Homo sapiens: one gene and its partner. The gene in region 1 interacts genetically with each later gene. Each region holds a gene or a part of one and is shown in the gene's direction. Other genes may lie near its edges.

Evidence for each region. A genetic interaction does not mean that the proteins touch.
Region 2: changes in POLA1 (region 1) and MBTPS2 together harm fitness less than expected from each alone (positive genetic interaction), as found in Homo sapiens cells (one large-scale study listed by BioGRID).

The regions. Positions count from the first base shown.
Region 1 is NC_000023.11:24,738,474-24,743,002, forward strand, and holds part of POLA1 (DNA polymerase alpha catalytic subunit), read left to right. Parts: intron 1-901; coding exon 902-1,077; intron 1,078-2,901; coding exon 2,902-3,031; intron 3,032-3,528; coding exon 3,529-3,648; intron 3,649-4,529. UniProt on the Homo sapiens protein: Catalytic subunit of the DNA polymerase alpha complex (also known as the alpha DNA polymerase-primase complex) which plays an essential role in the initiation of DNA synthesis.
Region 2 is NC_000023.11:21,838,152-21,842,416, forward strand, and holds the start of MBTPS2 (membrane-bound transcription factor site-2 protease), read left to right. Parts: upstream 1-1,465; 5' UTR 1,466-1,583; coding exon 1,584-1,658; intron 1,659-4,265. UniProt on the Homo sapiens protein: Zinc metalloprotease that mediates intramembrane proteolysis of proteins such as ATF6, ATF6B, SREBF1/SREBP1 and SREBF2/SREBP2.

The DNA.
Region 1 (4,529 bases):
TAATAAAAAAAAAAGGAAAAAAGAAGGCAATAAACTAAGTGCTTTCTGTGTTAGTTACCTCTCATGACAACTCCAGTTTTATTTTATAGACAGTCTCATAGGGGTAACGTAACTTGTTCTGGATCATGTAAGTAGTAAGGGGAAGAACTGAGATTTGAACCCAGGCCTGGGTGACTCTTAAAGCCAATGTGTACTTTTCATTCTGCCTGCTTGCTTCATGTATGGAGGTTTTGGCAGTTTTTGTATGAAGCACCTTCTTCCTAAACCTGATACTGCTCAGTGCTTGAAATCTTATTTTACTTAAAGCTTATAAATAAAATGGACATGTTGCCTCATCAGATAAGTTAGGAATCTGTACCTTTTTCGTAATGTTCTCTAGAGGATTCTGCCACTACAGATCAAAGTTGGGGCCACTGCTCTTGCTTCTTTTCTTATTCATATCTTTAAGGTGGTAGAGTTGTTATTAGCACTTCATCTGAACACTTGCTTAGCTTTTTACCCCCTTCAAGATTTTCTTTATGTGGCATCTTCTCAGTGAGGTATACCCCATTACCCTATTTAAGATGGCAGTCCCCCCGTATTCCTTGTACCCCTCACCCTGCTGTTTTCCCATTTTCCATCCACTTGTTACCTCCTAAAACTATATAATTTCTTGTTTATGATGTCTGTTTTTTATTATACATTTCAAATGAGGCCAGGAATCCTTTCTGTTTTGATCACTGCTGTATCCTGAGTGCCTAGAATAATGTCAGATACATAGTAAATGTTCAAAAATATTTGATTGATGTATGGAAGAATGAGAGTTTTATCATAATTTTGGGCCAGCTTCAAAATAGGTTAGAAAGAAATGTTCTCAGTGTCTGCTCTTTCATGAAGTTTGCTTTTTGTTCCCATCTTGTAGGGCCGGAGTGGATTTGGTGAAAGAAATGCTACCTGTGGTCGAATGATCTGTGATGTGGAAATTTCAGCAAAGGAATTGATTCGTTGTAAAAGCTACCATCTGTCTGAACTTGTTCAGCAGATTCTAAAAACTGAAAGGGTTGTAATCCCAATGGAAAATATACAAAATATGTACAGGTATGATCCTAGATTCTTCAGAATTCATCTGTCTTGAAATTAACAACAGCAGGACACTACTAGTACTATCCTTAGTCTGGAGGGACATGAGCCAGTGGTGTTGTAGAGGGGAAATTGTCTCTACTACTTTCATAATTTGAACTAGTTTACCTCTTGAATTATTGTAATTGATCAGTTTATCTCCGTCTCCCTCACCTGTGTTAACACTATCTTGATGTTTCCTAACAGTAGTTTGGATTTAGATTTCTACTCTTAATTCATTTATTCAGGAATTAGGGTAGATATTTTAGAAATATAAAAACTGAGCAATCATTAAGTTAGAGGTATTGCTTGCTTATTTCTTCCTCCTACTCCTCTGGCCATCTCTCATTCATTCCTGCTAGTTCTTCCTGAGTTCTTTCTTGGACTTCTCTTTTCTGACTTTGTTCTTTCTCTAGGTGATCTCATTGAGTCTTAGGAATTTAAATACCATGGGATGGCTATGCTTCCCACCTGTGTATCTTCAGGTTAGACCTCCCTAAATTCCACACTCAGTGTATCTGTTTTACCTATTTTACTTGATATCTAATGTGAACTCCCAGCTTGTTCAAAATTGAGCTCTGATCTTCTATCCTAGGTTCTTCCTATAGTCTTTCCTTACTAAATTAATAGGTGTATTTTTTCCATTATCACTGGAAACTTCCAGAGTCTTACTTAGCCCCACATGTCTGAGGCATCTTTAATTCCTCTCTCTGATATCCCACAGTAGATGCATCAGGGTATCCTATCAGTTCTATCTTCTAAATAGATCTAAGTCTGACCACTTCTTTTCAACTGCATTGGACCCATCCTATCCAAGCTGCTATCCTCTTTCCCCTGGATTACTGGGTTTATATGCCTATCCCCTTACTTTTGCCCTTACCCCCTTGTGGTCGATTCTCAATCCAGAATCAGAGTTATCCTGCTAAAATCAAGTCAGATGTGATACTCTGCTCAGAACCTTCCAGTGACTCTCTGTTTCATTCAGAGTAAAAACTAAAGTCCTTATTTTTACTTACAAGGTCCTTTACAATGTGTCTCTATGTCGTTAACTCTGTCCTTATCTCGTACTGCTCTTTCCATCATTCTCTCTGATCTAGCCATATTGGCCTCTTTCCTAGTCCTGGAACTGTCAGATTTGCACGCAGCTCAGGACTTTTGAATGTGCTATCCTGTCTGCCTGGAATGCTCTTTCCATAAGGCTTGCTCCCTCACCTCTTCAAGATCTTCATTCTCAGTAAAATCTTCCACTGTTTCCTAACAAAAATTTCAGTCTCTGCTTCTGATACTTAATATTCCCGTTGCTTAACTTTTAACATTATATAACATACTATATACTTAATTTCTTTGTTTTTTTTTATACTCTGTCTCCCCCGTGAGGACATAAGCTCCAGGAGGATAGGAAGTTTTGTTTGTTTTGGTCACAGCCAATGCCTGGCATATAGTAAGCATGCAATACATACTCACTGGATGGAATGAATGAAAGGATTTAGGTAGTTTTCAGGCTTGTAGTTATTATATTACTTCAGTTTTTCCTTATGGGATTTTGTGTGTGTGTGTGTGTGTGTGTGTGTGTGTGCGCGCGTGTGTGTGTGTGTGTGTTTTGGAGAAAAGCATTGGGATCAGTGGTATGAATGAATTCCTAGTTACATACTGACCTTATTTTAAATTGTTTCTGAAGCCAAGGTGCTGTTGCTCTGAATTTACTTACACCCAGAATTCCTTATAATATTTTGTGAAGTTCTGATTATAGGCATTGTTTCTTTTAATTACTTGATTCTGTTTCATTCTTACTTTTCTGTACAGTGAATCTTCTCAACTGTTATACCTGTTGGAACACACCTGGAAAGATGCCAAGTTCATTTTGCAGATCATGTGTGAGCTAAATGTTCTTCCATTAGCATTGCAGATCACTAACATCGCTGGGAACATTATGGTAAATTTAACTTAGAAAGGGGGAAAAAGCATTTCCTGTTGGATTCAGTGTTTGCTTGGGGTAGTTGTTATATGATAATGAGTCTAAATGCATGCTTATAAAATGAGTAACTTGGATTCTGAAAGCTGGATTTCTTTTGTAAAAGGAAGAACTGGTTGGGAGAAGGGGAGGAATGCCAGGTGCAGCGTGTTGAAATTTGGGTGAACATACGGATCATCTCTCTAACATCTGGATGTGTCTTTTTAGTGGAATGGTCCATTTGGGAGTAAATAAATAGCCAAGTTGTCAATATTTTAAGCTCTCTTTGTCTCCTTTAGCTATAATGCTTAAAGAAAACGTTAGGAATAATTTAGTACCTTTTTTTTTTTTAAAAAAAAAGCAGACCGTTATTAGGAATAGTTTTGAAGGAGGTGCTGTGACTAAACTTACTGACTCAAAGTTGCTTTTGTTAGTTGTGGTTTTGAGCTCAAATTTAAAAAATAAATTCCATTTAATAGTCCAGGACGCTGATGGGTGGACGATCCGAGCGTAACGAGTTCTTGTTGCTTCATGCATTTTACGAAAACAACTATATTGTGCCTGACAAGCAGATTTTCAGAAAGCCTCAGCAAAAACTGGTGGGTCCAAAACTGTGTAGTATTTTGTTTTCTCTTAACCCCCCCCCCCCTTTTAATACCTAGATAGCCTTTTTTTTCTGTGATAACATCTGCTTTCAAAATAGCTAATCCCTTGTGTACTAAAGAAACCGTGTCAAGTTTATTCCCTTGTTTTTGTGTGGTCATTTCCTTTTCCACTTTGTAAAAGGAAAATGCACTTTGTGCAGACAAAATTATTTGTGAAATGTGAAATTCTTTGAGGGAAGCATTAGACCTCTCTGATGGGTGACCATACATGGAATGTGTTCTGGCACCTCAGCCCTATCCAAAGATAAATGCCAGTTAAACTTTTTATTTTCTTAAACCTATGAGCCTTTATTTTTGTGTTGCATTTTTCTGTACTAGTATGACCAAGGTCACCCACAGTCAGGTTTCTGAAGTAGCCTCCATCACTTTGGAACTAAAACTTAGTTTAGCTACTGTTTTATTAGCACTGATATTAATTAATTCAGAAATGGGAATTGAATGTTAGAATTTGATTCAGGTTCTCATATTTGCTTGTTTTTTAATGTACATTATCAAAATTGGTATAGGGCATATTCATTTAGAGGACTTTAACTTCTGCTGAGGTATTGAATGTTGGCCAGTAATAAACTACTTAGGAATGGATTTTCAGTATATGGATGTACTTGTTTTATGGTGTCCATATTAATAATAGGGATAATGATAATACCTGCATGAAGTATTTTATGTTTTTACATCACGAATGTTAGAGTAGTGATTTTAAGAGGGCTGTTTTATAATCTCAAATTTTATATAACATGAAAAGTGGTATTTTTCAATATTCATTGATTTAAAAATATGAAATTCTGTAAATTCAAAAACACATAAAAATAGAATTT
Region 2 (4,265 bases), 2.9 Mb from region 1:
TAAATAAACCTTCAAGTGACTTTTTGCAAGTTGGTAGCATTAATACTTCAGAAATTATTAAAGCTTAAAACAGCACTAAGTCTTTTGGGATACTTGTATATGGAAAACTGTGGAGTAACAGGGTGCTTGAATACAAACTTTTATAATTTACACCCAGCTATGTCCAAAGAAAACGGAAATAATTTATAACAACACATACACACACAAATAGGCAAAGATATGTAAAACAGTCATAAGCTGTCTTGAAGCTGGAGAAACATGTCCCTAAGTGAGTAAAACTTTAGGAAAAGCAGGGAGAATGAGGCAAATTAGTAGCAATATTTGTAATATAGGTTTCTGGTATTATTGTATATTTTCACTTGGAAGGGGGTTGAGGATACATTTTTATTTGGGATACTTGTTCTTGAGATAGTATTATGTTCTCAATATTTTGGTATTAGCATTATTATAGCTAATGATGCTTTTCCAGAAAAGTTGAAACAAATAACTTTTAAAGATGCACATAAATAGAACGTAAAAAAACCCCAATAAATAGTTTTCTTTTCTCTTAGAGATTATCTAGTTCAGTGGTTCTCAACCTTGGCTGCACAGTGCAATGACTTGAGGAGCTTAAAAAGTATAAATGCTTGGGTCCCACTGAGCATCTGATTTAATTGGTCGAGGATACAGAACGGGCATCGGGAATTTTAAAAGACCTTGGTGATCCTAAAGTGCAGGTAAGGTTGAGAACTGCTGCTCTAGTTCAATATATAATCAGGTATACATTAACGTTAAAATGTGTAGGTGTTCAGAGTTCTGATTTTTAACCATAGCACCATCTCAAATATTATAAAAGGTTGAAAAAAGAGCCTAATTTAATCAACATGGATAAATTTCAAAAAGCATGTTGAACGATACAAGCCAGACACAAAGAGTACTTATTGCTTTCTATTTACATAAAGTTAAAAATAATCAGAACAGGGGGAGGGGCTACTGACTAGGAAGGGACGCAAGAAGGAAATTCCTGAGAGGGAAATTTTCTCCATTTTGATTAGGGTACACGTATATATATATATATATATATTTATCAAAACTCACAGAAATGGACAATTGAGCTCTGTATGTATGATTTCATTACATGTAAATTTACACTTCAGTAAAAAGGATAAACAATTAAATCTGGATATCTATGACAGGGTCGGGGAGGGAGAGATTATTACTTCAGACGACCCCAAATCCTCATGGGTTAAAAGAAACAGCAAACCCCTGACCAGAACTGGCGAGAATGGAGAGTAGACAGCAGGGAGGGCCAAAGCCTAAGAAATCGCTACAAGACTAGATGCCGAGTTCGAACTACTGCCTGGACGGCAGCGCCCGAGCGCCCGCAAAAATAAGCCCCCGTGCCATTTCCGGTACTAGCAAATCCTCCTGTATGTCCCCACTGGAAGAGTCCGGTGGGAAACCGTGCCACCGCAAGGAAGGAGCCGGCGGTAGCTTGGTTCCTGAGCGGATGCTGGGGCTGTAAGGCGCGCGCGGTCAGCTGTTGGCGGTGCAGGGAGGAGGACGCCGGGGCTCGCCTTCCCTCCTCTGCCGCCGCTGCCGCCATGATTCCGGTGTCGCTGGTGGTGGTGGTGGTGGGTGGCTGGACTGTCGTCTACCTGACCGACTTGGTGCTGAAGGTGAGGGCCTTGGGCCTAAGGTCCAAGCCCGCGGTGCCCATGGCCGGAGCGCAAGGCCTTCTTTTCTCTTCCCCTGCCTGGCGCCTCCCGGGCTGGACGGTGCCCACGTGCGACAGTCCGCGTGGTGGATCGGCCCGGTGGAGTAAATAAAACATTGCCGGCCGCGGGAGGGTTGTGGCGGCCTGCGCGGCTGCCACTGTCGCAGTGCGGGGCAGTGCAGGCCCTTCAGCCTTCGGGTCCTGCCCGGGAGGCGCCAGTGGTGGGATCGGGAGGGCCGGGGCCCTGCCAGACCCAGCAGCTGCAGTGCAGCAGGGAGGAAAAGAAAACGTCTGCTTAGTAAAGACAGTGCTTTCCCTTATTGTTTTTAAGTTCAAAACGCTCTAGAGACTCAGATATTGGAATGAATCTAAATCAAGTCGTGATTGAAATCAGTAGTCTCAAATTTTTAAATGCATATGATCATCTGGTTTGCGGTCAAAATGCAGATTCCGATTCAGCAGGTCTGCGGCAAGGCCTAAAATTCTGCATTTCTAACCAGTTCCCAAGTGCTACTGATGCTGCCAGATCACAGAGTGTACTTCAAAGTAGCACACTCAAATAGCAAGGATTTACATAACCAGTTTCTAACTACTTGAATTCTGATTTACACGCTGCACCCCACTTCTTCACACTAACCAGATACCCTGGGTGCACGGTCCATTTTCCAGTTATTTGAGAAGGGTAGCAAAAAATCAGGAAGAGTCGTCTGACCACATGCTTCAGGCAAGCTTTTGGAATTGAGTACTGGGGGGTAGGGGATGGGGAAGAGTAACTATATATGTGGAATAAGATCATATAAATTCTCAAGTGTTTAATAAAAATTCCAGTTATGGATAGCAAAATCTTCATGTTATGAATACCATTTAAAATAGAAAACCATAGTATTGCATGTTTTAGCTTTAACAATAAAATGAAATGAGACTTTTCCTTCTATCATTTAAACTTGTAAAGTGCAGGAGGTTACATAGCGTAGTCCTTAGATCCAGGGCTGGGCTTCTAGCCAATGTGACCTTGGGAAAATTGCTATCTGTGCCTTGGTTTCTCATCTTTAAATAGAGATAATAGTAAGGATCTCCTAAGATTACAGAGAGAATTACATTAGTGTATCCACATAAAGTCTCGCTCCTCAACTTGAGGTTCAAGGACCAGTAGCACTTGCATCATTTCGGAGCTTGTTAGAAATGCAGAATCCCAGGCCTCACCCCTGACCTAGGGAATCCGAATCTGCATCTTAGCAAGATCCCAGGTGACTCCTCTGCACCTGTTTGTGTTTGAAAAGCACTGATGTGGCCGGTCACAGTGGCTCACACCTGTAATCCCAGCACTTTGGGGGAGGCTGAGGTGGGAGGATTGCCTGAGTCCAGGAGTTTGAGACCAGCCTGGGCAATATAGTGAGACTTTATCTCTACAAAAAATTTAAAAGTTAGCCAACCATGGTGGTGCATGCCTGTAGTCCCAGCTACTCTGGAGGCTGAGGTAGGAGGATCTCTTGAGTCTGAGAGTCAGAGGTTAACAATGAAACAAGATCGTGCCACTGCACTTTGGCCTGGGTGACAGAGCAAGACCCTGTCTCAAAAGAAAAAGCACTGATTTAAAGTACTTGGCATAGTGGTTAACGTGTCATAAGCAATACAGGCCACAATGATTTTGTTGTTTGAAAAAGCCACATGAGCCAGGCATGGTGGTGCAGCCTGTAGTCCCAGCTACTTGGGAGGAAGAGGCGGGAGGATCGCTTGAGGCCAGGAGTTCCAGGCCAGCCTGAGCAACATAGTAAGACACACACACAAAGCCACATGATTTCTTCATGTTGCATATGTGAAAAAAATCTAAAATAAAAAGAACTTTTACAGTCCCTAGTCACAAGTGTGTGAGGTGACCAAGATGTCACTGGTTTCAGTAACAACCCCTAGCTCCTTAAGAATGCACCAACCTCTGAGCAAAAGACCTAACGCCTACTCAGAGTATCTGCCTGGGAAATGGAGAGACCTCAACTTTTAGGAGCCTGCACCTTTAGTTTCTCTGCCTCCAGCTTGGTCTGCTGATCCACCCTGGGCTTTTCTAGGATTTCTGCATAGACATCTGTTAGAGAAGTTGTGTCACTCCTTTTCCAAGTCTTGGAAAACAAGTACACTTAAAATTTAACTACCTGAAGACTGAGAGCAGATAATACTACAGATCCAAAGCAAACAGCTACCTATATTCAGACTATGGTCATTTTTTAAGACTATGATAGGGCTAAGATTTCCTTCTTGGACAGATAAGTTTCTCACATGGGTGGGCATGAATATGACAATACTTACTGTACTTACTGTGTCAGGTATATAACACAGCCTTATGTCATCCAAAATCCTATATTAGTCAAGGACTTCAAACTTCCCTAAAGGTAAAACTCTTGTTGGGGCTGTGTATAAGCCCCTATCCCCACAACCCCAGAGAATTTAAGGGACATTATTGAGCCCAAGATGGCTTTAGATAAGTTTTTTACTTTTTACATGATCGAGGTTGGCCTAACTTCTTAGAGTTGTTGCTCAGAAGAAGAAAGCAAACACTGATCGCAACTGTCCCTTC